3 separate regions of the Homo sapiens genome follow, and regions 2 and 3 are each linked to region 1. Evidence: fine-mapped expression QTL. A gene starts in region 1. Each other region holds a variant in brackets. All regions are shown on one strand. Distances are between the middles of the regions. Region 1 holds the start of LRRFIP1 (LRR binding FLII interacting protein 1). Region 2 overlaps LRRFIP1 (LRR binding FLII interacting protein 1). Region 3 overlaps LRRFIP1 (LRR binding FLII interacting protein 1).

What was found.
Region 2: its variant is fine-mapped to the expression of LRRFIP1 in whole blood (TOPMed, PIP 0.99).
Region 3: its variant is fine-mapped to the expression of LRRFIP1 in blood mononuclear cells (TOPMed, PIP 0.94). The same link has a PIP of 0.9 or more in whole blood.

The regions. Positions count from the first base shown.
Region 1 is chr2:237,622,628-237,632,642 of GRCh38, reverse strand. It overlaps LRRFIP1 (LRR binding FLII interacting protein 1), which reads right to left and starts at 5,056. Exons shown (of 24, transcript NM_001137550.2): 1 at 4,903-5,056. The coding sequence starts at 4,998. RefSeq lists enhancers at 586-1,147, 1,150-1,649.
Region 2 is chr2:237,675,823-237,685,837 of GRCh38, reverse strand. The region is part of intron 1 of LRRFIP1 (LRR binding FLII interacting protein 1); the gene reads right to left. Among named protein-coding and RNA genes, the nearest start is that of LRRFIP1, 53 kb to the right of the region's middle. The variant A/G (reference allele first, on the strand shown) is at 4,800.
Region 3 is chr2:237,756,839-237,766,853 of GRCh38, reverse strand. LRRFIP1 (LRR binding FLII interacting protein 1) reads right to left here. Exons shown (of 24, transcript NM_001137550.2): 17 at 9,306-9,398; 18 at 8,033-8,125; 19 at 6,649-6,790. Among named protein-coding and RNA genes, the nearest start is that of RBM44, 37 kb to the left of the region's middle. RefSeq lists a silencer at 4,213-4,425. The variant T/C (reference allele first, on the strand shown) is at 4,169.

The DNA of each region.
Region 1 (10,015 bases):
GAAGAGAGACAGGCTCCCTCCGCACAGGTTGATATAGGAGGGCTATTTGGGAAGGACAGGGAGAAAAGATGAATGAAAGGGGGACTTAGGATGAAAAGACCCGATATTTACGAACTACCTGAAACAAGGGGCATGGCTTTATGTTGGGTTCCAGAAGCAGAGCCCATGGCAGGACTGGATGTGAGCCCTGTCCCAGCAGGGGCATGAGGGGGGCAGGCCAGTCAGGGAAGGGCTGGGGAGGGAGGTGGTCTCGGCAGGAGTTGGCCTCAGCCTGGCCCGCAGAGAGCTCCGGAGCAGGAAACGTACCACAGAATTGGTTGCATCTTGAAACAAGCCTGGGGGACATTTTGTGACCTCACAAAATGGTTACTTGATGGCTGCAGGCTGCCTTGGGGGCAATGCAACCCCTTCTCCACAACTGGAGTCCTTGGGGGCTGTGTGACCCCTTCTCCACAACTGGACTCCTTGGGGGCAGTGTGACCCCTTCTCCACAACTGGACTCCTTGGGGGCAGTGCGACCCCTTCTCCGCAACTGGACTCCTGTGTGGCCGTGGCTCAAGTGAAAGGCGGTGGCTGTGAGGCCTGAACCAACAGCACCCGCAGGCCCACGAGTCAACTTGGGGCCGGTGAAGCAGCCGGGTGGGGCAGCAGTGCCCCTGCCATGGATCAGGGCCCGAGGCCGCAGGCCACAGAGGGGCCAGCTTGGAGAGGAGGCTGCAGAAACAGTTATGGGGGGAGGGCCTCCGTCCTGCTGGGTGAGGAAGGGGTACCTATGGCACCACCAGGGGATAATAAGCTCACCGCACTGTCTCAAGGCCCCACGGTGAGTTCCTAATGCAGCCTGCGCAAATGACTGTTCCTGTTGGGAAAAACATTCTTCATTTGAGAGCAATACTTTGAATTGCATGGTGAGACCAGTATCGCTTTACTCAGCTGCAGAGTGCTGAATGAGAAGTTTGGGATGCTACCAAAATGCACCAGTAGAATGTGAAATGCGGTAGGAGAGGAAAATCTATCTGCGTTGGAAACACCCCTCCCCAGAAGTGGGAGGCGCAGCTCATGCCTTTGGTGCTAATGAGCTTCTGCAAGTGCGTACTAAACCTTTCTCCTGATAACATCCCGCCTGAATTCCACTGCAACAAGAGAGTGAGAAATAATTGACTTGCGATAATACAGCATTTGCAAATAACTCCCTTTACTATACACGCTTGCCTAGAGTTTAAACCATCACATGGAAGCAGGACACCGGCTGCAGAAGCAGAAATGCACCCTCCAAAGGCTGCCCCCACCACGAGTCCTGCTTCTACCCAGAAGAGTGCAAAGCCCTGCCTGCACAGGGCAGCCTAGCTCTTCCCCTCGCTCCAGCGAACTGGAACCCACGTCCCTGCCAGGTGACTCAGGCTTCCCAATGACCTCAGCCCAGAATTTTCCACTTACTCTCCAGAAGGCATGTTCTTGGGTGCCAGGCCCAAGTGGCAGCCCACTCCCTCCCACTTCCTTGAAGCCTCCCCAGTTTCCATTCAGGCCCCCACCTTCCCAAGTGTTTCAGGGAGGCCGGCTCTCCCCAGTCCCAGGATGAGTCTGACAGGTCACAGGGTAGACCCACCCCCCTTTGCCACAGGCACTGAGCCCCTAAGTCCATGGTCCTTGTCAAAGAGCTTGGTGCAGGAGTGGCCAGACAGACTCATGAAAGTTTACCAGGGAGATACTGCTAGCTCTCTGGAGAGAGCCACCAGAAGAGACGGTGTGTGGGCTCCACAGTGGCAGCCCGGGAAAGCCAAGGCCAGCTGGCCTCCATGAAGCAAGTCAGCCTGAGGATGAGGCCACCCACAGAGGATGGCCCAGCCCAACCAGCTGCGCAGGTGCTGTGGGAAAAAGAGGCCGGAGCCACTGGTGAGGCTGGCGGGGAATCCTGCCCTGCCTCCGGGCTTGCTGTGCTCCAGCCAATATACTTCCCCTTGTCAATGTCAGTCCAGTCAGGGTTTCTGTCCCAGCAGCCAAAGCATCTTGACTGGTACATACAGCCTTCAAGAACTCAAAATGCCACTTCCTCCAGGAAGCCACTTCTGAGACCACTGGCCGGCTGTGATTCTCTCTCATGTCCAAACCTTCAGAACACTGTCTACGCCCTTTTTATATCAGATCCCTTCCTGTCTTCGGTTAGCATTATTGATCTACAGGTGTCAACCCCTTTCTGACCCAACTCCTGGAGGGCAGGCAGGTCCTCGCCGGGTTCCTCCCTGACTCTCCAGTCTCCCCAGGACAGGAATTTGGATACCATGGCTTGTATCTGTTGAGTCAATGAGTGAATAAGAAAGTACTGAACCCAAGACGATTTTGTTGATTTCTATAAGAACCCTGATGAATTCAAGGAGTAGATATTTGCCATTTGAATAGTGATTTTCATTTTCACAGTTGAGAAATAGAAGTTAATTTGTACTAAAACATAAGATGTCACACCTGCTCCCTCCAACCCTATCAATCTGTGCTACTCAGCACTAGTAACAGCTGCACCTACGGCTGGGTTTTACCGGGAGGGGCGTGTAAGAAGCTCTCATATTTACCCACCGCCTAGTTACATACTTTACATTGCTACCCACTTTCTTTAATTCTGACAGCCAGGGGAGGTTTCTTCTTCTCCATTTTAGAGACGAGAAAACAGAGGCCCAGAGAAGAGTGAGTAACTCACCTTCCTAGGATGGCACAGCTGGCTAAGAACTATGTCATTTGAAAGCCCAGCTCTGACTCACAAGTCTATCTCTGTAACTCCAACTGCATCTCCCTCGGTGGGAGGGAGGACCTCAGGGCTCTCAACCCAAGGAGTGTTCCCTTGCCTTCCTTTTCAATCTATTTTATAAAAACCAGCAGATAGGCTGGGCGCAGTGGCTTACGCCTGTAATCCCAGCACTTTGAGAGGCCAAGGCGGGAAGATCACTTGAGGCCAGGAGTTTGAGACCAGCCTGGCCAACACGGTGAAACCCCGTCTCTATTAAAAATACAAAAATTAGCCGGGTGTGGTGGTGCGTGCCTGTAATCCCAGCTACTGGTGAGGCTGAGGCAGGAGGATCTCTTGAGCCTGGGAGGTGGAGGTTGCAGTGAGCCGAGATCATACCACTGTACTCCAGCCTGGGCAACAGAGTGAGACTGTGTTAAAAAAAAAAAAAAAAAAAAAAAAGAAGAAAGAAACACCAGTGGATAAAAGGCAAACTCTGGAAATTTTCATTCTTCTCATTCTTCTGCCCCATAACCACTGACATCAAGACAAGGCTTGCGATTCACTGGCCACCTCTGGCCCTTGCAGGGAACACTTGTAAGGCACTGTGGTCAAATGCATACATAAGTGACTGTCTTCACAGGAGGGAGTTATACTCAAGCTACTATATTTAGCAAATGTCTATATTTAGCCAAAGGTCCTTTAAATGCCTTGTACTTCTTTTGTTTATTAATTAATGTAACAGACATAGACAAACACCTAGTATGTGCCTGGCTCTGTGCTGAGCTCTTGGGATACAAAAGTAAGATATTTCCTGTCTGGGTGTCACCTTCTACAGGTGGACAAATAATGATAAGGTATCCTGACTGCCATGCCAGGCGCGGGCATGCCATGGAGGGCCGTGGAGCCAGGGAGACTTAGGCCTGGTGCGATGTGAGAGGGCTGAGTCTGGAAGGTCTCCTGGAGGTCACAGTGGGCTTCCAGGAATGAATAAGGGTTTGCCTGGAAAGCCCTTTTCTGTATCATACAGAGAAAAACAGAAGTCTTTATTCACTCAGTAGTCAACAAATACTGAGTGACTGCCACATGTCCGTAAGAGCAAAATCAGGTATTTACAACTACAAACACCTAAGGATTGGTTACAGAGTAGATCCCCCAGAATATCTGACGGATACAGCCAGACACCACAGTCCAAATGGCTTGGAGGTGTTTCCTGTGGGAAGAATCACATGTGGAAAAGCCAACACGGAAAAGAACCTGTAAGGCGGGTTACAAGGCAGAGACTTTCTTTGCATTCATACACCCACCTGGCACACAGTTCAAATGGTACAAAGGGAACACAGTCAAAAATTAAGCTTCCTTTGTCCCCCTGGGGCCGCAACCTATTGGCTCCCCTTTTCCCAAGCTGCTGCTCTCTGTCCCTGTACGGCTTTCTGGATGTCATGTACATTCTTTAGCCTTAAGGTAGAATCCTTGCGGAAGGAAAAAAAAAAAGGCATTTGTACAAATACCCATTCTAGTGCGCCTTCAATTTGTCACAGGTAAAGTTCATCACCAAACATGATCTTAGTTACAATAAACTCTGTCCAGGAAACTTTAATGAAGACGTTTCAGTGTGCCTGGACCCGTTTCCAGGCTCAGTCCTGAAAGAAAAATCACAGTGATCCCCAAGTTCATCTCTGAGCTGCACCTTGAGTGACATCGATGGATGGATGACAAATGGTCACCTGAGCGACTCGGCCATTTCAGCAGGGCCATGTGGCCTCCGGCGACCGTCCACTGCCTCCAGGTCGGGCCTAAGCCCCCGCCTCCTCCCATGCCGCACAACAAAGCGGGGCGCTCGCCCCCACCCGGCCAGCCCGGGCCACCTCGCGCGCTGGCGGCGCCCGGCTCCTCTCCCGAGGGCGCAGCGGCCGACGGTGGCCGGGGTGGGGGAGGGCGCGCAGCGTCGCGGGCTGGGCCCGGGGCTGGAGAACGGGTGCGGGGTCCGCAGGCCTCGGAGATCGGGGCCGGGGCGCAGCGCCTGGGGATCAGCGCCCCGGCGCGCGCCTGCCCGGCCCACCCGCCTGGAGCCGGACGCGCAGTGGCACAGACGCACAGCGGGACAGACGGACGCCGGAGAGACCCTGACAGCCGTCCGGCCCCCGCGCCCGCCCGGCGCCCCCCGGCTGCCCTCCCGGAGCGCTCACCTCCCGCGCGATCTGGTTGAGCGCGTCGTCCTCCGCCGTGAGCCGCTCCCGGTTGGGGAGCCGCTTGCGCCCCGATCCCTGGGTGCCCATGTCCATCGACCGCGTCGCCCGCAGCTGCCGCGGGGCCCGTTGCTCCAGCCGCTCGCGCCGCCCCGGCCCGGCCCCGGCCCCGGCCCCTCCCTCCGCCGCGGCGTCATGGCGTCAGCGGGCGCTGGGCCGGGGACGCGGGGACGCGGGGGGACGGGGGCCGCGGGGACCCGGGGGAAGCCAGAGCCGGAGGTCCGCAGCGCGGGCCAGGGACTGCAGGGGCCAGGGACGGCGGGGCGGGGGACGGGGGCGGGGGGCGGAGACGCCAGGTGTCAGGGACGATGGGGGTCCGATACCACGGGGACGCTGCGGATGCCCAGGGCCGGGCACGCGGGACCTGAGGGACCGGGAGCCCCGGAGGGTGGACTTTGCGGGGACTGTTTGGCGGGCCGGTAATCGCGGAGCGACGCGCGCCAGGGCGGTGGGCACCGGTTGAGTGGGGACCTGAGCGGAGAGCGGGGGGGTAGGAAGGCTTTCAGAGGCCTGAGTTGCCTTGAGGGGTTTGCACGGAGGGGTGAGCACAGGATTTGGTTCAGCCTGGCGCTCCCCATTCCGCGGTGAGTCGGGGTGGAAGTCCCTCGCCGGGGTGAGAGCTAGGCTCTGGGGTCAGGCCGAGAGGTGCTCGGATCCGCCCGCCACCGCCGCTCCTGTGACCTTGGCCAGCCTCCTGGGCGCCGGCTTCACAGCGGCATGGTGTGGATGTGTGCGTTTCTGTCTTTACACGCGTGTTCTCCGTGCTAGCATCCATCCTTCTCCCCGCTGTCTGCCCCCTGAGATCAAGGACTTGTCACTTCTCTGGTGGGTCCCCAGCCTCTAGGATCGGGGCAGGTGCGTCGCAGCTCTCTCCTAGTTGTTGAAAAAGTAATGAACTTACCTGTGCTCTCTGAAGCTCACAGTCTATGCTCCAGAGGTGGATTTAAAAGTAAAGCAAATCGGAGGATTAGGTAGGGGTTAAAAGCCCCTGCCTAGGGCACGGCAGGAGCACCGGGTGGGAAAGTTACTGGTGTGTTTGGGGTATGGGGAGAACTTCAGTGTGGCTGGACCTGGGGAAGGATGGGAGGGAGGGTAGTGATGGTAGAGGAGAGGAGGCTGTACTGAAGTCACCTGTGATTTTTTTCCCCCAGTGATAAGGACAGTTAACATTTCGGTGTATTTCCCACCAAGTGGTGTGACCAGATTGCTTTGGATTCTTAAGGAGGTGGCCTGGAAGCTGTATGAAGGTGGGAAGAGGAAGAGGGCCCTTCCACCCACAGTGGCAGGGAAAGCTGTTGGAGGTTTCATTGCAGGGAAAAGACAGCGAGTCCAGTGACATGGGAGGGAGGGCAGATCCAGGTGACATTGCTCTGGGTGCCTGAGCTGACGCAGGTGGGTTGGCAGGGCTGACTGTGGCATTGTTCATGACTGAACTCCGGGAGCAGAAACTGCACCTGCACATTGTAGGCACTAAGGAAATAGGTGTTGACTGAATCTTCCAGGCCATATTTACATTACTTCAGAGGCCATACTCCTTAAGTGACATAGTCCTCCTTGGGGGAAACCTTGAGCCGTGGCCACTTGCACTGCCTTGGTCTTGCTGGTGGCTGCTCACTGTTTCCCAGCCCCTGGGGCACTGTGGGGACTGTGCGTCTTTGCCGAGGCTGGTCCCCATGAGTTCACTCATTCCTGCACCCACACCTGCTGCCTGCCAGCTGCTGAGCTGGAGGCTGGGGCATAGCTGTCCGAGAGGCAGACACGGCTGCTGCCTCTCAGGGCTGACTTGAGATGCCTGGAGCTCCTTAACTAAAGCCATATCCAAGTTCCAACGTCTCCTTTCTAAAAGAAGTCTCCCTTTGCTCCCTGTCCTTCATTGGAACTTTGAGCCACTTTTTGCTAACACCTAAATCCTCCATCCTGATGTGTTGAGGCCAGGAGGGCAGGCGCTGACCCCATCTTCCTCATCTTTAAGCCTTCACCAGGGACTGGCTGTGCCAGTTGCTTAGTGGAGTGCAGTGGTTGAACTTGTGGAACAGAGTTCAGTTCCCAACCCTCCTCCCCACTTTCCCTGTTGGATTGTTGTCCAGAGACAGGAGATTCACTGCCGTGGGGACTGGCCAGAGGTGTGTCTGAACAGCTCCCGCTGGTAGACAGTGTTCTCGGACACTGTGGTGAATTCAGCTTCCTGCCCCTCCCCCATCATCTGTCCACTTCCAGAAAAGAGCCGCCTTTCAGAAATCATCAGAAACAACATTGCTGGGTCCTCCCATGACCCCATGACATAACAACTTCCTGGCTACAGTCCTCTTCCCCTGGCGATGTGCTCTCAGAGTGGACCGGTTCTCACTTCAGAGTCAGTTTCCGCCTCTAAATGGAAATACGGGTGCCCACTGTCTTAGTTCCTTTGTGCTGCTGTAACAGAACGCCTTAGACAGGGTCATTTATAAAACCACGGAAATGTATTGTTCACAGCTGTGGAGGCTGGGAAGTCCAGCATCAAGCCTCCAGCAGAATCAGTGTCTGGTTGAGGCCCATTCCTCACAGATGGTGCCTTCTGTGTGTCATCTCATGGTGGAAGACGGGCTCCCTCCAGGCTTTTGTGTAAGGGCACTCATCGCGTTCATGAGGTCTCTGCTTCAGGACCTGGTCACCTGCAGGCCCCACCTTGCATTGAGGGTTAGGTTTTGACATATGAATGGGGGGGCCACCGCCATCCAGACCATGGCCTCTACCTTGTCAGGGTAGGGACAGTATTCTAGGCAAGAGCCCTTCCAGGGCTTCACACACAGGCAATCGATCAATCATCCTTACAGCTCCTGTCCTCAAAGGCCCAGGTCTGGAATGAATGGTGAACAGCAGTTCCTGTCTGGGCAGAGGGGAGCTAGACAGAGGTATCAGGCAGCTTGGTGGGTCTTCTCCGTGCTTGGGGTGCCTCCTGGAGGAAGATAAAGACCTGCAAGACTCCATCATGCTGATCCATGGGTTCACCGAAAAATTGTGGCTTTTCCTCCACCCTTGACCGTCGGCCCTCCCTGCGTGGAAGTGCATGAGCCTGTTTCCACTGAGAAGACTGGCCTCTGCCACCAGCACTACTGACCCCTCCCATCTAGCCCTTTTCCTATTCCAGATGGTGACACTACCCACCAGGGCTTACTTCAGAGCAGGAAATTGAGAAACTATATCACAGATCTGATGTCCAGGGCCAGAGAATTAACATGTTCATCTCCAAGCCTGGTACCAAGTCCCTTCACAAAAATACAGATGCCACCTTCAGGAAGCCTCCACGAGAAAGTGGAGGCAGCCAGGGAAGCCTTGGCAAGGGAAACCACACAGCGGCGCCGTCCCCAGCGCAAGTTTGCCTTGGTTCAGGAGCTCAGTGGGCAAGCCCTGGGGGCTGGCTGGGAAAGGAAGTTGATGAGCAGCTACGGAGGGGCGTCCAGTCTGCATGAGGACTCAGAGCTTCTCAGGCAGAGAGCCATCTGAGCCATCATGTGGGCCATAACGTGACTCACTCTGGGTCCATTGAGAGCATCATCCGCGTGGGCCTACCTCAAACCTCTTTCACCAGCACTCCAGCCTTGCTCTTCCAGTTCCCAGAGGATGGAAAGCCCTGCTTTGGATTACAGCTGGAGCAGGGCAGGAGAACTGCAGCCCCCCCCCAGGAATGCTGAAGGACCCGTAGAGGAGAGCCATCTCTCACGCATGGAACTTGGAGCCAGCACTCTGCCCAGAAGTGGGGCTGGCTGAGGTCAGGGTCTATGTGTTGCTCAGGAGGTGAATGGTGTCTCCTTTGTCCTGCTGGACGTTTTCAGGTGCATCTTTCAGTAGCTCAATCACAGCACTTCCAAAATAAATCAGTGGATGATGCCTGCCCCAATAAATGCCTCTTCCTTCCCAGGACACCATCACTTCCAGTAACTTTTTCATGTTTTTTGGAGTAAAAACCTTGGAACCATTTTGAAATCCTTTCTCCTTTCTCTACTAAATCTGATCAAATACCCAGCTGGTCTTTTCCTTCATCTCTATCTGATCATTTTGATCCTCCTTTGGCATGTTTGCTGATACCACCAAGCTCTGCAGCTGGTCCCCCTTATCCCTCATCTGTGGATTACTAGCATAAGTCACCTTCTGGACTTGGTGTCTCCAGGGTAGGGTGTCTGAGACAATCTATGGGGTAGGGGAAGCAAATATAGAATTTCTGTTATATATATCTTCAACTAAAAATTAGAAATCCAATGTTACTAATTTTTGGTCTATAAGCTTATTTCAAGCGGTCACTCACTCAAAGCATTTCAGGGGCTGGCAGTGGCGTGCTCTCTCATTACATCATTTTCTGCATATTTTGATATATTTCGGTGGACCAGGTTAAAAGGATTTATGGATTGCCTAACCTAGTTTTAACTAAAACTCAAAGAGTAGATAAATGGCTTCAAAAGATTTAAAAGATTCCCAAAAGCCACAAATAAACAAGAAAATGAGAGACTTGTTTCTTAGTTCAGGCAGGAGGTCTTCACTGGCCTCAGTATAAGGTTATTAGACAGGATAAGAACGTTTAGTAACCATCAAAACTATTTAAACATTAATTTACATTTCCTATCATTAATGATTAACTTCATTCTAAGTGGATATTGTGCCTTTATTTATTAACTAATGATGATAAACTAGGAACATAATTTGTACATAAATATGCAAATACTTGTGGGAGTTTAAAAATACTTGCGGATCATTTCCATTATCAAAAACATCTGGGTTCTAAGGGCAGGTGCCATGGCTTATGCCTGTAATCCCAGCTACTCGGGAGGCTGAGGCAGGAAAATTGCTTGAACCCAGGAGGAAGAGCTTGCAGTGAGCTGATACTGCGCCACTGCACTCAGCCTGGGAGACAGAGCGAGACTCCCTCTCAAAAAAAAAAAAAAAAAAAAAAAGGGTTCTAGACCAGGAATTCATTTTTTTTTTTTTTTTTTTTTTTGCAGTAAAGAAAGTTTAATTGATGCAAGGATCTGATGAAAGTTGGATTCCTCTTGCAGTGGGGAAAACGGGCATCTGAACATGA
Region 2 (10,015 bases), 53 kb before region 1:
GACCAAGGAAAAGGCTTTGCATGGGGGAGATTTATTCATGGTTTGTCGGTTTTTAAGGATGGAAGAGATGTGAGCCTGTCTGGAGGCTGAAAGGACAGTGAGAAAAGATGGAGTGGGTGGGGCAAGGCCTGAGGGGCTGCCGACCAAAGGCTGGGTGTGGGGAGCGGGGAGGGGAGCTGCAGGCACTGGCATCTTGTACTGACTCAGGATTTGATCCGATTGTGAGCTCCATGGGAATGAGGACACCAAAGTGGCCAGGAGAGGGCAGATAACTAGATGCAGAGCTTCCTGTGCAGGAAGAGTGGATGGCAGAGTTGAGGGAGGATAAGGAGCAGGAGGACCCAATATTGAAGGACCTGCCTCAGAGCTGTATGTGTCCCAGTCAAGGTGCACTGTACCTGAGCTCAGAGCCCTTCCATGGCGTTACATTACACCATTAAATGTTGTTTTGTGATACACTCTGAGGCATACTTAAAATAATTTCTAATGTATTTTACTCTGGAATTAAACTCATCTCAAAAAGTGTCTAGGAATAAGTCTATAGCAATCCTAAATGTATCCGCTTTCCCAGTGTGTTCCACAGAATTGATGCTTTTTAAGTCCATACCAGAGTGACCACAGTAACCTCCTCTATACACAGTAGCCAAGGAAATGGCCACAAACACCTCCAGTAAAGCATCTCTAAGAAAACCACTTCTGATTTTTGGGGTTTTTTTGTGTGGGGGGGGGAGGGTAGGGAGACAAGGTCTCACACTGTTGAGTGTCAGGTTGGAGTGCAATGGCACAATCTTGGCTCACTACATACAACCTTGGCTCACTGCAACCTTGTCTCAAGCTATCCTCCCAACTCAGCCTCCCAAGTAGCTAGGCCTGCAGGTGTGCACCACCACGCCTGGCTAATTTTTTTTTTTTTTTCAGAGACAGGGTTTCAGCATGTTGCCCAGGGTGATCTTGAACTCCTGGGCTCAAGCAATCCACTAACCTTGGCCTCCCAAAGTGTTGGAATTACAGGTCTGAGCCACCGCACCAGGCCCAATTTTGTTTTTCATGAAGACAATGCACTGCAAATATCTACCAATTACCTTCTAAAAACACGACAGCTAAAATCCATTATGTATTTCTCAGTCTTACAGGCACAAACTCTGAAAAGTCCTCCTAAGGCAGCTCTCCTGTGAAGAAAAAAAAAATCTATACATGCTCTCAGAATAGTTCATTTAAAATGTTCAGAATAGATGCTGACATGGGGAAATAAGCTTCATCCTCAACAACTGCATTCACCAGCTAACAGTATACCCCACTGAGAAGAAATAAATCAAATGCTTCAATATATACTTAGGAATAGAAAATGGCAATTTGTTTTTTTTGAGATAGTCTTGCTCTGTAGCCTAGGCTGGTGTGCAGTGGTGTGATCTCGGCTCACTGCAGCCTCCGCCTCCTGGGTTCAAGTGATTCTCCTGCTTCAGCCTCCCAAGTAGCTGGGACTACAGGTGTGTGCCACCACACCCAACTACTTTTTTTTTGTATTTTTAATAGAGATGGGGTTTCACCATGTTGGCCAGGCTGGTCTTGAATTCCTGGCCTCGAGAGATCTACCCGCCTCGGCCTCCCAAAGTGCTGGGATTACAGGTGTGAGCCACTATACTTGGCCAAAAAAAAAAAAAAAATGGCAATTTTAGTACAAAATAAAAGCAATGTATTTTTTCCAGAGATTCCCTCATTTATGTGGCTTTGCCTCAGTAATCCTGCCTATGAGTTTAACATTCTAGAAAAGAGAATATTCCTGACAGTCAGAGCCATGAAATAAATCTTTACGCTACTAGCTGAAAACTTCAGAATCCACCACGCTACAAATGTCATTGATAAATGTCATTCACAAAAAAAAGAAGTGTGGGGAGAATAGGACTCCATAATCTGAATTTAAACAGTACCCATAGCATACAGAGAAGTTTAAGGTACTCAAGATGTATTCGAAGGCTTAAAAGTAAAGCACTGCCACTAAGCAACTTGGCTTCCAGGCTCCCTGACTGAAGGGCAGACATGAACATCAGGAACGGTGAGCATCCTTCCAGCTGAAGGTACAGAAATCCTAAAACAGCATCCCCAAAATGATCTTTCCAAGAAAATGAATTTCCATAAAGGAAAATAAAGGCTAAAACACACTTCGGCATAACACTAAAAACATAGACCCACACTCTAATAGAAGGGTTTGCCCTTTTGCACTTTGGCCCTTGAGAGATAGCTCAAAGCAAAGTCATCAACTATTCGAGTACAAAAAATGTTCTCCATGTGTACAAATTGGATATCTTTAGAGAAGACTTGGACATAGAACATACAAGCCTCACCTTTGAAGAATGAAGATCTTAGATGAACTTCAGGGGGAGTGTGAGGAACGCCAGAGAGCAGCCATTTGGAGAGACATGCTTGGCACGAGAGTGGAAATTCTGGAATAACTGGAGATCAAATAGCCACTCCTGACCACGTCACCTTTATACCCTGTACCTCACTGGGCAGCTGCCTTGGCATGATGAGAGGGCGTGGTCCCCTAAACGCACTGGAGGCTTTCCAAATGCTTCTCTGACCTGACCGTCGGCTTGATTTTAGTTGCTGAGATTCCACTGAAGCCCTCGCCCCTTGTCTCCACCCCGTTGGTGGCATCTGTATCAAATGTGCTGTCGGGCTTTTTGGGAAACCCTAGGATTGATAAAGAGCAGGGTCCCCTGACGTTTGGGGTTGCACAGTTCCTTGTCGTGGGCGGCTGTCCTGTGCATTGCAGGATGGCTAGCCGCGTTCCTGGCTCCACCCACCAGATGCTGGCAGCGCTCTCCACCCCAGCTGTTACAACCAAAAATATCTCAGACATTGCCAAGTGGCCCTGGATCTAGAGGGGCCTGTACCTGCATCCGAGGTGCCCACACTGTGGAAGCACATTCATGTCTCAGCTTATACAGCTGGATGGGGCCCCAACAGTTCCACAGCAAAGCATGCACAGAAAGAATGGTCAAGATGGGAATATGTGCACACGGCATCTAACATCTGTTGCCTTCTTCTTTCATCCAGTGAGAACTTGAAGGCAGGGCTGCTTGTCAGGGACGGCAAGAAAGTCAGCGCCAGGAGCATTGAAAGACAGGAGGTGCAGGTCACTGGGTGGGAAGTGGGGAGTTGAGATTTCAGATGTGGTGTGGTCACACCAAGGGATGTAATCCTGGAAGTTGGCTGGAAGAAAGAACAGCTGAAGTGAGAAGATCAAAGAACTGGGTTTTGCTTCTCGGCACCTCTGGGAAGGCCCAATCCAAGAGTAAGCCGATGGGAGAGAAAACAACCCTGCACCCCTACACAGAGAATGCAAGTGACCTGTGCAGAAGGCCTCAAAGCTCCAAAGCAGAGGTTTAGCAGATAATCAGGCTCGAGCTCCTGTTCTGCCATTCACTAGCCTGTAATTTCAAGGAAATCCCCTGACCTCTTCCAGCTTCCTACGTAAAGCAGGGAGAGAGACAGCCAGCAGACAGGACTGCCCGGAGGACTGCAAGTAACAGGGGACCTGAGCCTGGCATGAACAAGTACTTTGTTCCGTTGCACTGGCAAAAGATTCCGTCTGGCAGCTCATTCCATCTGCTATTTGACCATACACAGATTATTTTTTTCCCGCAAAACAAGGGGCTCTAGAATTACAATTTACATCCAGGTTAGAGAAGTTGCGGGAAGGTCTAGCATCACTCAGTTAGCTTGGACTAGGTTTAAAACTTCATCAGTGCTTTTGGCACACTCAGGGAGCTTCTGCCGTCTTTCAGGCAGCTGTCCGTCTTCGAGCCCAGCACTGTGTTGTTGCTTTACTGCTATTCCCAAAGCCAAGCTTGTGGAGTTCTTAGTCCTCAGATGAACACAATTAAGAATAGGACTTTGGGAGGCCGAGGCGGGCGGATCACGAGGTCAGGAGATCGAGACCATCCCAGCTAAAACGGTGAAACCCCGTCTCTACTAAAAATACAAAAAATTAGCCGGGCGTAGTGGCGGGCGCCTGTAGTCCCAGCTACTTGGGAGGCTGAGGCAGGAGAATGGCGTGAACCCGGGAGGCGGAGCTTGCAGTGAGCCGAGATCCCGCCACTGCACTCCAGCCTGGGCGACAGAGCGAGACTCCGTCTCAAAAAAAAAAAAAAAAAAAGAATAGGACTGCGGCCGGGCACGGTGGCTCACACCTGTAATCCCAGTACTTTGGGAGGCTGAGGCAGGCAGATCACCTGCGGTCACTAGTTCAAGATCAGCCTGGCCAATGTGGTGAAACCCCGTCTCTACTAAAAATGCAAAAATTAGACAGGCATGGTAGCATGGGCCTGTAATGCCAGCTACTCAGGAGGCAGAGGTGGGAGAATCGCTTGAACCCAGGAGGCGGAGGTTGCAGTGAGCCAAGATCACACCACTGTACTCCAGCCTGGGTCACAGAACGAGACTCCATCTCAAAAAAGAAAAAAAAGAATAGGACTGTGTAAAAGACATAGGCATGCAAAGACCAGAAGGACATGCAGAATAAACACAGGGCTGCTCTGCCGAAGTGGTAGAACTGTGGGAGTTGTAAACATTGCTTTTTGAACACCCTTGGATATTGTCAGAATGCTCTTTTTACAGTACGCAGGTTAAGGAACTTGGACTTTATTCAGGAAGCAGTAAAGGACCCACTGAAAGTATTTGAACAGGGAGGTGAGATTGTGTTTGAATAAAGAAGCTGTGGGCTACAAAAAAGTTGAAAACTACCCCTGTTATGTTTTTTCAAAAATTTCTTGGCCAGCCTCTCCATTTATTCTTCC[A/G]GATTAACTCAGGAGTCTATTTGTTTTTTTTCTTTTTGTCATTGTTGTTGTTGTTTTTGACACAGGGTCTCACTGTGCTACCCAGCCTGGAGTGCAGTGGCGTGATCATGGCTCACTACAGCCTCCACCTCTTGGGCTCAAGTGATCCTCCCATCTCAGCCTCTGGAGTAGCTGGGACCACAGGCCTGTGCCACCTTGCCTGGCTAATTTTTGTATTTTTATAGAGATGGGGTTTCACCATGTTGCCCAGGTTGGTCTCCAACTCCTGGGCTCAAGTGATGGGCCCACCTCAATCTCCCAAAGCGCTGGGATTACAGGCATGTGTCACCACGCTGGCCTAGAGTCTATTTGTTAAGCTTTCAACCAACCTTCCCCTCTAAACTGAGATTTTATTTGAAATGCATTATGCAGTTGTCCCTCGGTATTCAAGGGGCATTGGTTCTAGGACCCCTTCCAACCACTGGGATACCAAAATTGGAGATGCTCAAGTCTCTGAGCATAAATGGTGGAGTATTTGCACATAACCTGTGCATATCCTCCTGTGTACTTGAATCATCTCTAGGTTCCTGTTCATACCTAATACAATGTAAATGCTATGTAAATAGTTGTTAGACTGTATTGTTTAGAGAATAATGACAAGAAAAACGTCTGTACATGTTCAGTACAGAGGCAACCATCCATTTTTTTTCCAAATATTTTCTTATTTATTTATTGCAATGGGGCCTCACTGTGTTGACCAGGCTGGTCTTGAACTCCTGGCCTCAAGCGACCCTCCCATCTTGGCCTTCCCAAGTGCTGGGATTGCAGGCCTGAGCCACTGTGCCTGGCCAGCCACTGCACCCAGCCTTTTTTTTTCCCAAATATTTTTGATTTGAGATGGGTTGAATCCATGAATGTGGAACCCACAGACACAAAGGGCCAACTGTATTTATCATTTATTTGGGGATGGATCCGTGTCTTTTTAATGTGGAGTTTTCTTGTTCAGAGACAAGGTATTGCTCTCTGCATTTTTCAACTGACTATGTCCTTCAGTAAATTATTATGGTCTTCATATAGGCCCTGCATTTTTCTTTATTCCTACATGCAACATTGAGTGGGATTTTATCATTTTTTCCATTATTTAAAAAATCAGGCTGGGCGCGGTGGCTCATGCCTGTAATCCCAGCACTTTGGGAGGCCGAGGCGGGTGGATCACCCGAGGTCAGGAGTTTGAGACCAGCCTGACCAACATGGTGAAACCCTGTCTCTACTAAAAATACAAAATTAGCTGGGCGTGGTGGTGCATACCTGCAATCCCAGCTACTCGGGAGGCTGAGGCAGGAGAATCACTTGAACTCAGTTGGCAGAGGTTGCAGTGAGCCGAGATCATGCCATTGCACTCTAGCCTGGGCAACAAGAGCGATACACCGTCTCAAAAAAAAATCATTACGGTAGGATATAGGAATGCTTTGGTTTTTTGTTTCTGTTATTACAAACTATCTTACTGAACTCTCAGTTTGAGACTGACTTTTTGGATTAGACATACACATAATCCGCAAGTATTTACAAATTTTATCTACACCCTTTCAGTAGTTATATTGCTGATTTCTTTGTTGGGTATGAACATCAGAACTGCCATTATCATCATCATTTTACGGTTATTGCTGATATATTCCTTCTTCCTTAAATTACTCTACAATTAGAGAAATAATCAGGACACAGTAGCTTTGTGAGTTAGTGCTTGCTCTGTAATCACACAGTACAGGACTCAGCCTTGTCAGAATTTAAATAGCATTTAAAACTGCTTATGAGATAAACAGAGTTGTGTTGCAAGGCACCTGAAAGGAAACAAATTACACGTCTCATAACAAGATACTCTTGCCTAAAGGCTAGAATCTAAGTTAGACCAGTGGAAGATCAACTTGGAGAAGGAATAATACTTAAGTCAGTGAAAAGTGATTTTCATTGTTGATGCTGGAGTACAATTGTCTACTGTGGTGACAGGGAGCACAGATTCTAGGCGCGCTGTGCCTGGTGGGAGTCTTCAGCGCTGGGCAAGTTACATATCCTCTCTTTGTGTTTCAGTTTCCTCATCTGTAAAATGGGAGGGATAATGGTACCCAGTTCCCAGGGTTTATAAGGATTAAATGAGTTGCTATTGATAATCATTATTTAAGTAAATACAATACTAGAGATGTAAGTGCAATGAAGGTGTTTGATCTATATAATGCAAGCTACAAAATAGTTTGAGGGGCGGGGTGCTGTGGCTCACACCTGTAATCCCAGCACTTTTGGAGGCTACGGCAGGCAGATCACTTGAGGTCAGGAGTTTGAGACCAGCCTGGCCAGCATGGTGAAACCTTGTCTCTACTAAAAAAATCCAAAAATTAGCTGGGCTTGGTGGCAGGTGCCTATAATCCCAGCTACTCAGGAGGCTGAGGCAGGAGAATTGCTTGAACCTGGGAAGCAGAAGTTGCAGTGAGCTGACCTCACTCCACTGCATTCCAGCCTGGGTGACAGAGTGAGACTCTGTCTCAAAAAAAGAAAAAAAAATAGTTTCAGGATAATTTAATCTAAATCTGATGTACCCAGTCACACTTTACCAAGGGATGTGGGAGCTGACATTTGTCCCTGACACACCAGCCCCTCCCCACCCACCTTCCTGCATACCCCAGGGCTTCTACCTTGCCCTACTCTGCACAGCCTGCTGTGTACCCCCTGCTGCAGGGAAAGAGGTGTGCCTGTTAAAACACACACAACCCCAACAGTAACTGGAATTCTACATCCCGTGGCTCTAGTAGGAGTAACCTTACTACTTTTCTAGAACAAGAGGCCTGAACTTTGCGCTGGTTATTTTTTTAAGGCACCCGGTGATTTCCTAGTTGAAAGTTATGATCTAGACAGCTGGACTTGAACTTCGAGAGCCAGATAAGGAGCTATGACTGTGCCTCCAAAGAATGATATTAGGCAATGGAAGCTCATGAACTTCTCCTTTTTGGCAAAGAGACCCTCCCATGGTGTAGGTTTTAGAAAAAGGGGAAATGGTCCGCCCGAGGTGACGCAATGGACTCAGAGTATTAACAAGATAAATATGTTTTTAATATAAAGCATATTAAACCTTTTTAGCTCTAACACTCTACGATTATTTAAAATATATGCCCTACATTTAGAATACAATATTAGAGCTCCAAGTCTAACTTGCAGCATCTTCGTCTCTGGGGGAAGGCAGAGGGACCCAGGCAGTGAGGAAAGCAGAAATCAGGCAGACCCCGATGTGGCTGGGAGGGTGGCCTCCCGGTACCACAGGTAGGCTGTGCTAGAGGTTTCATGGTGGCTCGATAATATCAGATAATACAGTGATAAGAAGGGATCTGCACTGAAACTTCAAATAATTCACATTTTATTAATTATGTAGTTTTTAGTTTTTTGGGTAGAGATTGGATTCTTGCTATGTTGCCTAGGCTGGTCTCAAACCCCTGGCCTTAAGCGATCCTCCTGCCTTGACCTCTCAAAGTGCTAGGGTTATAGATATGAGCTACTGTGCCTGGCCTTCAAATAACTTATATTAAATGGACAAAATAATTTGGTCTTTTGTAGGTAGAAGCAACCCAAGTGTCCACTGATGGCTGAATGGAGAAACACAATGTAGTATAGATACATAGTGGAATTTAACTCAGAATTAAAAAGGAAGGAAATGCTGTCATCTGCTAAAATGTGAGAAAACCTTGAGGACATCATGCTAAGTGAAATCAGCTAGTCACAAAAGGACAAATGCTGTATGATTCCAACTAGATGAGGTACCTCATACTATTCATCAAGACAAAGTAGAATGATGGGTGCCAGGGCTGGATGGAGAAGAGAATGGGGAGTCAGCGTTTAATGGGGGCAGAGTTTCAGTTCTGCAAGATGAAGAAGTTCTGGGGATGGCTGGTGGTGCTGGCTGCACAAGAGGGTGAGTATACTTGATGTCACTGAAATGTACACTTAAAAATAGTTAAGATGGCAAACTTTGTTATGTGTATTTTAGCACAATTTAAAACTAACGTTTAAGAAAACAATTTACCCTTTTGTTTATGTAATCACAAAAGGAGGAAGACGAAAGCCAGCGCAGAGTTTCCCCAGAAAACAGGAGCCAGATGGTGCGAATCCAACAGACTCCACGTGAAATCAGCCACACCAAAGGTCAGGAGATCTGTGTGGAGAGAAACTTTCAGAGAAGGCAACCAGGGCACATCTCTGTTTTAAAACCATCTCCTGGGCCGGGCACTGTGGCTCACGCCTGTAATCCCAGCACTTTGGGAGGCTGAGATGGGCAGATCACTTGAGGCCAGGAGTTTGAGACCAGCCTGGCCAACAGGGTGAAACCCAATCTCTACTAAAAATACAAAAATTAGCCAGGTATGTTGCCCATCTATAATTCCAGCTACTCAGGAGGCTGAGGCACGGGAATCCCTTGAACCGGAGAGGCGGAGGTTGCAATGAGCCGAGATCGTGTCACTGAACTCCAGCCTGTGTGACAGAGCGAGTCTCTGTCTCAAAAAACAAAACGAAACAAAACCCACAAAAATAAAACCATCTCCCTACCATGAGCCCTCCACATTTGCAATTCATGAAAATGGAAAGCTGTCATGTCCCCACGTGAATTTTCGGGTCTCACTAGAAAGATAACCATCAGGACCGGCAACATGGGATTCAACAACAGTTTCTGGTCTAATTTTTTAAAAAGGACGAAAGAAGGCAGGCTGGTGTCATGCAATACTGCTTGCATTAAAGTATGTACATTTAAACTATGTACCTTGAACTTTTATTGGAAAAGCGAAGCTCAGTAGTAAAAATTTACGTTAATCAAATTCATGGAGACAGAAAGTTGCATGGGAGTTGCCAAGGGCTGGGGAAAGCAATGCCCACTCCACCTTCAGCTCTGTGAATTTGGGGAGTCAGTGTTTAATGTGTACAGAATTTCAGTTTGGGAAGATGAAAAAGTTTTGGAAGTGGATGATGGTGATGGCTACACACTAGCGCACTTAAAACCACTGAACTTTACACCTAAAAATGGTTAAAATGGTAAATCTTAGAAATATTTTATCACAATAAAATTATGGTCAAAGTTTTACATTATAAGAAAAGGGCCAGGTCAACCTACTGCTTTACAGCATCCTGTCCAGCTATAAAAATAGTGTTTAAGACAAGTATGAAGTAGAATTGGAAATGCTTATGACAAAGATTATGACAATTAT
Region 3 (10,015 bases), 130 kb before region 1:
TAATATCAATTACTGTGCTTGGCTATAAAGTCATTACACTGGAGAGCATATAACTGATGCTCAGAATGAAGGCTCTGAAATCATCGAGAAATGGTTTGGCTGCTCAGAACTCTTTCTTTTTCCTTCTTTCTTGCTCATGGATTTTCAGCTGTCCATTCCCTACTGGAGGGCTGGGTCCAACTGCTTGTTCACTGGCACAGTGCCTTCCATGTACAAAGTGATCAAACCTGTCTATTAATTAAGCAAATGAGTGGTGAATCACTGAGACGGCTGGATGGCTGAGCTGAGGGATGTGATGTGTGCCCAACGTCCTGCAGGGTGCTGGTGAATAACATGAGAAAGAACTTAAAATGGCTTGATGATCTCACCATTTAGTGACCTTGGTTGTCACACTGCTTTCCAAGAGCCCTTTAAAGGTAGGAATGAGAGCTGTTTCCAGTATGCATTCCAATAGGAATGCAGCTTTGCTAAAGTTAGAGACATAAACTAAAACCCTGTGAAGTCCTATAGAGCCCTTGGACTTATTTCCTAGCAAGCATTTATCATCCCCACCATCCTCTACTTCAGGACACTTGAGCAGAAACAGTCAAGGTTTTTGCCGTTTTCATCCTGCTCTTCAAAACACTGTAAGTAGTGGCGCAGGTAAGCACAGCCACAGGTGAAGACCGTTTTCAGCTGAGGCTGCACATCAGAACCACAGATCACAGGGGATGGTGCGTGACAATCGTCTCAGTTCTCCCAGTAATGCCCATGCTAGCCCCAGGCTCGATGCCAGGAGGGAAGTGCATTCCTTACTGAGGGAGGGCATCAGGCGTGGGTCTTCCACGGAACCCCAATAGGAATCAGCAACCCCCAAGCAGATATTACTCAAAGGTGGTATTACATACAACAGTAGTCAGACTCAGACTTCAAGCAGCCCAAAGAGTGGAACCACAGGCTTGCACAATTATAAAATGTTTTTATTTCAATTACATAATAACACGTTTTCCTCAAATTTTATTGAGGTTTTGGTCTTTTTGCATTCAATTCTATCTTGTAACAGTAATATGAATCCACATAATTTCATAAAATGTCAACAACATTCATAAGGTACATTCCTTTGTGATTTTATATTTTACAATTTTAAATCTAACTTTACAATTATTTTAAAAAATTTTTTTATATAGAAAACAGATATTTTCTTCAGGCAGATCAAAACAAGAATTTTCCAGTAAGAATATACTGGGACATAACAAATGAAAATATTTATACCAAAATACCAAAAGTGATTCAGCTCTTTAAAATATCCTACTATAGTCTAATTAGTAGCTTGTACAAGAACAAGTAACCATTTTTTACTGCTCTTTTGAATGATGATTAGAAATTCAAACAAAGTATTTTAAGGTTCAAAAACTTTTTTTTTTTTTTTTTTTTTTTTTAGAGACAGTGTCTCACTCTGTCTCCCAGGCTAGAGTACAGTGTGCAATCATAGCTCACTGCAGCCTTGAACTCCTGGCCTCAAGCAATCCTCCCACCTTGGCTTCCCAATGTGCTAGGTTTACAGGCGTGAAAACATTGTGTTGTGTGTGTGTGTGTTTTTTTTTTTTTTTTTAGACAGAGTTTCGCTCTTGTTGTCCAGGCTGGAGTACAATGGCTTGATCTTGGCTCACTGCAATCTCTGCCTCGCAGGTTCAAGCGATTCTCCTGCCTCAGCCTCTGGAGTGGCTGGGATTACAGGCGCCCACCATCACGCCCGGCCAATTTTTTGTATTTTTAGTAGAGACAGGGTTTCACCATGTTGGCCAGGCTGGCCTCGAACTCTTGACCTCAGGTGATCCACCTGCCTTGGCCTCCCAATGTACTGAGATTACAGGCATGAGCCACCACGCCCGGCCAAAAACATTTAAAAAATGACTGTCCCTGCTCAAATACTGCAGTAGGAAATGTAATTTGACATATATCACTTCCAGAAAAAAACTTTAAATCTTTCTATAAAATGAATTTGATACATCATCAGCATGAAGTGAAGTTAAAATCTCTTACAAAGTAAATTCAGGTATATCAACAATGAGATCCAAAAGTATCGGTTCAAGATCAAAGACTCATATGAGGTAAAGGCAAATAAAGCCCCTCATGCTTTCAGACATTTACTTGTTATCCTTAAAATGATTATTGTTCTAAGGTGCAAATCTTATCATTCAGTGACCTATTTGCTATTTGGCTGTTTATCTCCTTTAAATAAAATACCATACAGGTTATAATGTACATTTTAAAATCAAATATGAAAGTACACATATGTGAACAAGACATTAATTTAAATATCAATTATATTCATAATACAGAAGTCTAAGAATGCTATTTGGTCATTTCAATTAGATGCTGATATATTTGGTCAAGAAAACCCACATTCCTATCAGCCTAAGGCAAATAGTAAATGCCTCTATTTTTATTAAGTGGACTATAAACAGTAGACATTATTGTTTGATACTACTGGAATGCTCTCAATTAGAACGTACACTGATAACAAATATGTCTTTCTAATCTGGGTGATAACCTCAATGATTACATGGAAATCTACAAGTAACAGTCTATAACTTAAAGCAGTAGAGCACCTGGTAATTGTCATACAGTGCCTCTCTATGAATTTAGAACATTCTACTTACATTGGCAGTGGAGAGAAAAGACCCCTTCACACTGAGACTTCCTGTGCACCGCGCCTGCCGCCTGCCTCAGCTTAGGACATGGTACAGTCTTCTTTGCTTTTGCCCTTCTCATTCCCTCCTCTGGTATCTTCTCTGCTTTCTGGATTGAAGTGCCCTGGCTCTCTTCCTGGTGCCGACAAGTCATCGTTCTCTAGGCTATTGCTGTCTAAAGCTTTCCTGACGGTCTGACTTGGATGTTCTGACATCTCACACCTCTCTGTACTTTCTGCTTCACAGGCATCACTAATGTCCTGTGAGGGACTTTCATGTTCGGGCAGGGTGCAGCGATCTGCGTCTTCGCTCTTTGGTTCTGCAGGACTGCTTTGAGTGGCACCATCTATTTTAGCATTATCTTTTGCAACACCTTCATCTAATTCTTCACCACCAGCCCTCGGGCCTGATGATTGAACGGTGTCATCCTCAAAATCTAATGTGTCTCCATCAGCTAGTACCTCCTCAGCTGCTGTTTGTACATCATCACCTTCTTGGTCAAGTTTTCCATCCAACTTAATTTTAGGATTCTCCGGACAATCAACATTTTCACTGCTTTCTGCTGCAATTTTCTGTTTTGGATTTTCAGTCACCTCGTTTTGGGCTTCCACTGCTGACTTTCTGTCAGTAGACTTTACCTGCTCTTCTTCCTTAATTTCACTTAAATCTGTGTTCTGATACGTTAACTCTTTTTTAACATCTTTAAGGGTTTCTACGGGTACTGGGGATTTTTTCTTCTTGTTTTTCTTTTTCTTGTTCTTTGTCTTCTTCTGCGATGAGTCCAATGCCTCTCCCTGTTGGTCACTCTTTTCTTCATCGGGCTCTTTCATATCTAAGGGTTCATTTTGAGTGTCTACTGTACTTGGACCTGTCGCTTCCTGACAGTTGCCCTCAGTTCCTGCTGGAGAACCAGGAACTTCTGTCTTGATTGGTTTCTCGTCCCTTAATCCTGTTTCTTCACCCTCTTCTTCGTTGTGATCCCTACCTACTTCTGTACTGTGCGCTGGAACCTCCTTGGGCTCAGCTGCTTCCTGGTTGGTGAATTCTTTCTCTAAACTATGCCCTGTGCTTGTCTCTAACTCTTGGGGGACCTCTACCATACATTTGTCATCATGATAAACTGTGTCATCACTATGCCCTAAAGGACACGAGGCCACTGTGCCTGCCTGCTCTTCAACCTGAGTCACTGCTGCCTCTCCCACATTCTCTGTGTGGTTCCCACCATCTAAGTCACTCCAACAGTTGGATGGCTCAAGGGGAGTTCTGGTCCTGTCATCTGGTGCACCCATGACCTCATTTGACTCAACCTGTACTGTGTTTTCAGGGAGAGAACTGCTCTCAAGAATTTGGCTTTGAACCTGTTCCTCATAGGTAGCACCTGCTAAGGTTCCTAGGAATGGGGCAGTGTCTTCAGAGGATTTCTGGTCCTCGGTATTCTCACCAGCAGGGAATACCTCTATGTCCACACAGTCCTTCACTGTGTCCTCTGTGTGTTG[T/C]TCTTTCTCAGTATTGTGCAAGATTTCTCTTTTCCCCACATTCGCCACGATTTCATTTTTCACCTCCACTTCACTGGCTCTTCCTAAAAGACCATTGAGAAAATTGAAGGGACCCCATGATGTGGCGGCCACATAATCTACATTAGAATGTAAACACACGTTCCAAATCCCACCCACCCCTATTCCTAAAGACAGAGTCATCAAAGAGTCATGAGAAACAAGCCTTTGCCAGTTCTGTGCGGCAAAGCAGCAGTTGCATTAGTAAATTTTGGGTCAGTGAGGGCCACTGCCACCACATCAAAGGCCAGAGTGGCTGCTGGTGCCATCTTGTGTGGACAGATTTTTAAAGGTGACGTTAAGTTTCAACAAATAGAAAGAACTCTGGATCAGGCAGCCAAACAATCCACAATGATGGGTTTAGGAACAGACTGAAGGTTCAATTCCCCACTCTCACTTCTCAATGAACAACTTGACAACTTGTACTTTTGCAGCTGTCAAACTGCACTCCATGTCACACAGCCCTAAAAGCAGCTTTCAAGTAATTTTTAAAAAGAATATTCAGTGCACTTTTAGAAATGCAGCCTCAAGGTCAGTCTCAAGGAAGATGCTTTTGAAATAGCTCATATGAAAGGAAATCTATCTTCTGCCACTCAACTATTGTTTTCCTGAGAAAACACCCTGTGTCCATGCCCTGATACCTCTGCTCCATTCCCTAAGGGACTAGGGAGAGAGGACCAGCAGGAGGCAAATGTTCAAGATCAAGATGACCACTAAATTAAATGATAAATTATTCATCGTCTAAAGAACATCAAACTGTTTTGGAATTTTTGGACTCTCCAAACAAAACCCCAGCAGATTAGATATGGTACTATGTTACTGAAAGTCAAAGCTAGATAATTTTATAGCCCAGTGATCTCCATGGTGGGGTGCCCATATCCCAGGGAAAATGGGGGAAATATTAGGAATTCTATTTAGAGTTTTACTCTAAAACTTCTTTGCATATCTTTGCATATATTTTATAACGTACATTTTATATTAATGAAATAGTATACATATGTAGATTTAAAATAAACATACATATTGGATCCTACAATTCTTTGCTGAAGGAATATGTGATCAAAAGTCATTTGAAGGCCACTTTCAAAACTGACATTTCTGGTTCTTACAACATTTCACAATGGTTATCAAAGATTTATAAAATGTGTATTTGAGTAAGAGCAGCGTAATCAGATTCCTAGCTGTTCGGGTAGCTCATATAAAGGTATGATGGAAATTGATTAATTTATCTTTTCTCAACAACGGTATATAGATACTACATACCTATCTAGAGACGGAATCTTGCTAGGTTGCCAGGCTGGCCTGGAATTCCTGGTCTTAAGTGATCCTCCAGCCTTGGCCACCCGCAGCGCTGGGATTAGAAGTGTGAGCCACTGCACTAGGCCACAACTTTTTTTACACAATTGAAAAGAGCTGTGTTTCTTTAATAGTCATAAAGATAATGAATGAGGTACCTCCCTGGAATGCGAGGCCTGAGAAGATGGGGCCTGGAGGTGTCTACATTTCCATAAATAAAAAGAAATAAGATGAAAGCTTCTACATTAAAATGAAAAGTCACGGACCCTGACCTTATTCCAGCCTCTTTGTAAAACACTGGAACGCAGAGGGTGACCAGTGACAGATGAGGCCTCACTTGCACGCTGCAACTTCAGGCTGCACGCCAGAATCTGAAGGTTTCTCCCAAAGCCAACTCTTATGACAAATTATGACAAATCAGATCATTGAAAATGGTATAAAATATTCCTCTGATCTACTGGATTCCCCAGTTTTATATTCTTTCAGAAGCAAACACGTGGCATACAAAGGAGGATCCCCTCTGACAAAGGTGGGCATACTCAGACTCTCAGCACCGCCACACCCACTACCACGGCCGCCTGCCCACCTCGAGCGGTGGCTTGAAAAAGGCAACACAGACGGACCTGCTGTCCACAGGCACCCCGTACCCTCAAAGCGCTGAATGCTGCCCAGGATGTCGATGTTGGCTTGCAAATATGGCCAACTGACTTGACGGCCTCAACCATTCTGATCTTTTGATAATTCTGTCATAGAATCGGTTTAAAAAGCCACACTTTATAGGTACAGATATATATGTGTCTGAGGAAAACCAAATAGTACTCTCCACATTGTTACTTAATTTTGAGACTGTTTTCCTTTTGCCTTCACAGTCTTGCTTGGTAGCTTTGAGCAGCAAAAGAAAAGGTTCACTTGAGCCATTGATGGTGCACTACACAGAGATGCATGCCAGACAACACGTGGGTGACCACACCGGGTGGGCAAGGAAATTACCATGAAGTGATGAAACAAATGGCATGCTGGTGACTGTTAACCCATCAGCGACGGTGGCTCCAACCCCAGCAGTGCATGGAGGGTGAACCAATGCTGAGTGGAAAGGTGTGAGGAGCCGAAGGAAAGCAAATACTTACCTAGGGTCCCATCCCCTGTCGACTTGAGGGCATTTAACTCTTCTTTTGTCATCTTGGTAGGACCTTGGTATCCAACATTATTGAGGGTGTCGGAAGTCTCTCCATTGGTAGCTATTTCTGAATTTAGGATTATTCCATGTTTCTGGGAACAAAAATAGGCTCATCGTAATATTTACTCAGTGATATTAGGTTAAACTCTGTTTTAATACAATAATAAAAAAGAAAACCATTTTTTCCTGAAGTACAGGGTAACTCCACAGAGACAAGAGAAATGCTAGGGTGCAGCACTCGTAAATATTCGGTCAACACACACAAATCTGGGATATCGTCCTCCAAAGGCTACTTCTTTCTCAGATGTTCCAATCCATGCTTTCATTTGCTGGTGACAAGCTACTTCCACCAGGCATCCTTTTTAACTACAGGTAGTGGCCTGTGGGCTGCCCCCAAGTGGAGCAGTAAGCAAGTCACTGCCAAGTGACCTTTCATTTCAAAACCCTGATTGCATTCTTTAAAAAGAGAAACCAGATAAAGAAAGAAATATATACATGTTCTGAAAGAGACACACGAAACTTATGTTAAAGAAGGAATTCAGAGGTGGCTAGAATGTTCAGTATATTCAAAAGAAACAGAATTCACTGAAAACAGCAGCACTTCCCAACTGCAGACATCACTCACCCATGCCCTCCTGCCGCCTGTGGCTCTCTCTCCCTTGTGTGTGAGGAACTCCCCTGAACTGATCGCCTCTTCAAGGAGCAGAATTACGAATCTTAGCTCTAAGCCTGTAGCTGGCTGGCTCACTGCTCTGGCTTTGACCCTGGAGGCCAAGCAGCAGATGGTGACGGTTCAGGAACCCCCCCACCCAGAGTGCTGCCACTGGCGCTTCACCTGTGTCAAGCAGCGGCTGAAGACGCCTTGGCGTGGCCCACCAAGGACAGGGAACCGTCTTCCACCTGTAATCTAGTAGGTCTCAAAGTCTAATTAGCGGGATCCTTGCCCAAACCACTTACCCAAGTCACTGTTCCTCTAGAGAAGTCCTTAAATTGGGGGTTTTAATATAAAGAGGCAAATTAATTCTCTAAGTCTGAGTAATATCCTGGAGAATTTACTAGTGAGTATGAGAAAAATTTAGATAATGTATCAAAAAATTCTTGCATTCAAGATTGGCTATGTTTATTAACATCAAAAGGCCTTGGGCACCACCCACTGAACCTACATTTATTTTACATCTCATCGCTGTCAGTTAACCCAATATATGAATTATTAACAGAACTAAATGACATAAAATGAATTATGTACACACATATTCACAGCATCCCAAAATTTGCTGTTGTCACCTGGATTTTTTTTCTTTTTTTTTAAATAAAACTGTAGTTTGGCTTCATACCTTTAATTCCTCTTTCAGCATGACTACTTCTTCTCTAAGATCATCCCGTTCACTCCTTACGGAATCAAAGAACTCTTTCTGCCTCTCTAATGCCTGAGTGTGCAGCAGAGCCAAGAGAAAGAAGAAGATTTGCACAGATGAGCAAGTTACTTCAGAAGCAGGAACCAGAAGGAGGCTTCTACCATCTAAAACACTAGTGGACTCTAGACATTAAAGAGACTCTGCCTAAAGATACTAACAAAATCCAAGTATTAAGCTTTTCGCTTAGTATATATAATCCAAGAAATGTTACTGTTCATACTCCATGAAAGACATGCGCATCTTGAAGCACACGGACACAGCACGGGGCCCCAGAGGTTACTATATTTGCATCACTTTCTAGCTTTGTCTGCGTGTTCACAGCTGCGTTAGAGTTACGCAAAGTCTCCACTTGAATGAGGGGTCAGTAAAGAAAAGGGATTGCTTAAGCACCTCCCAGGACGGCTGTTGTAGCCATTTAGACTATTTTTATACACTGATTCTTGGTATCCATCATCTCAGATAAATGAAGTGGTCCTAAAGTGTGCGTGCATGCAGACACACACACACACACACACACTCCTAAGTGCTGATGAGCGTGACAGTGGAAACACAGTGTGGCTTGAGTCAACGTGCCGATGGTTTGTGCAGGTATCTCGACGTCTTTATTAGAGCTATGTGTAGGAATCACCATTTTGGGGAAACCATTTGTTGTTACCAATCATGACAACTACTTTGTGGGGTTCTGTTCCCCCTATCCTTCAATTCTAAGTGTAGAACTGCCTCTTTTCTTCTTGTGGAGGGAGAAGGGTATGTGGAGACCTTCCCTGGGGAAGATTTCAAAGTGGGGATATCTGCCTGGTGGTGCTTAGATTTTTTTTCTCAAAGCACCACCAGGCAGATAATCCCAAGACGTCTGGACTTGCACACATCAGACCTCCTCAGAGTGTCCTCCTCACTCCAGCTGTTTCAACAACCACCGGCCCGGCCCAGCCACGGGGCAGGCAGAGCGCACAGCTACGCATTCACAAGACCCTCCATGGAGAGTCCGTGTCACAATCCAAGTTCATATCAATTTGGATAAGTTAGTGTATTCACTACTTAATAAAATTAAATAAATTAATACGACTTTGTGTCACGTGGGAGTTGCATGCATACTCAGACAAGCGGTTTTGCAAACTAAAGACTCTGAAAAAACTCTATTTGCTAAGCAGGCTGCCCATTTGAGTAGATTTTCAAGACTTGGGAATCCTACCCCTATCTTTTTGTCTTTCCACTCTATTGTTTCCTGAAGATCAGAAATCTCCCTGATAGAACTCGCCTGTTTCTGCTGTAGCTGTCGGATTTCCTGAGGAAAGGAACAGACAGAAAGCAGATAAAGGGTTAAAGAGGAAGAAAAACCCCAGCCCGAGAGAGAACCTGAGAGCTGGGACAGTGAGTGAGGCCGCAAGCACTCTTTCACCTCATCAACCCTGAACTCATTGTCAGCATTCTAGGATTTTTTTCCTTGTCCTACTTCCGGCTTCAAGAAGTGCAGGAAGAAAACCTGCTTTGGGTGAAATTCTCACTTCAAGGCAGCAGTTAAAGAACCGATTAAGTCAAAAAATTAAAAACCAACCCTGTATTAGTTTCTTATTGCCATTGTAATGAATCGTCATAAATTCAGCAGCTTAAAACACAAATTTATTCTCTTGCAATTCTAGAGGTCAGAAGTCCAAAATGAGTCTTATGGGCTAAAATCAAGCCTTTCTGGAAGGCTCTAGGGAGAATCTGTTTCCCTGCCTTTTTCAGCTTCTAAGACTGAGCTGCTTTCCTTGGCTCATGGCCCCTCTCTCGCATCGCTCCAACCTCAGCTTCCTGTGTCACATCTTCTACTTCTGCCTTTGAGTTGCCTTCCTCTTAGAAGGATGCTTGTTCCATCAAATAATCCAGGATAATCCCTTCTCTCAAGGTCTCTCATCACAA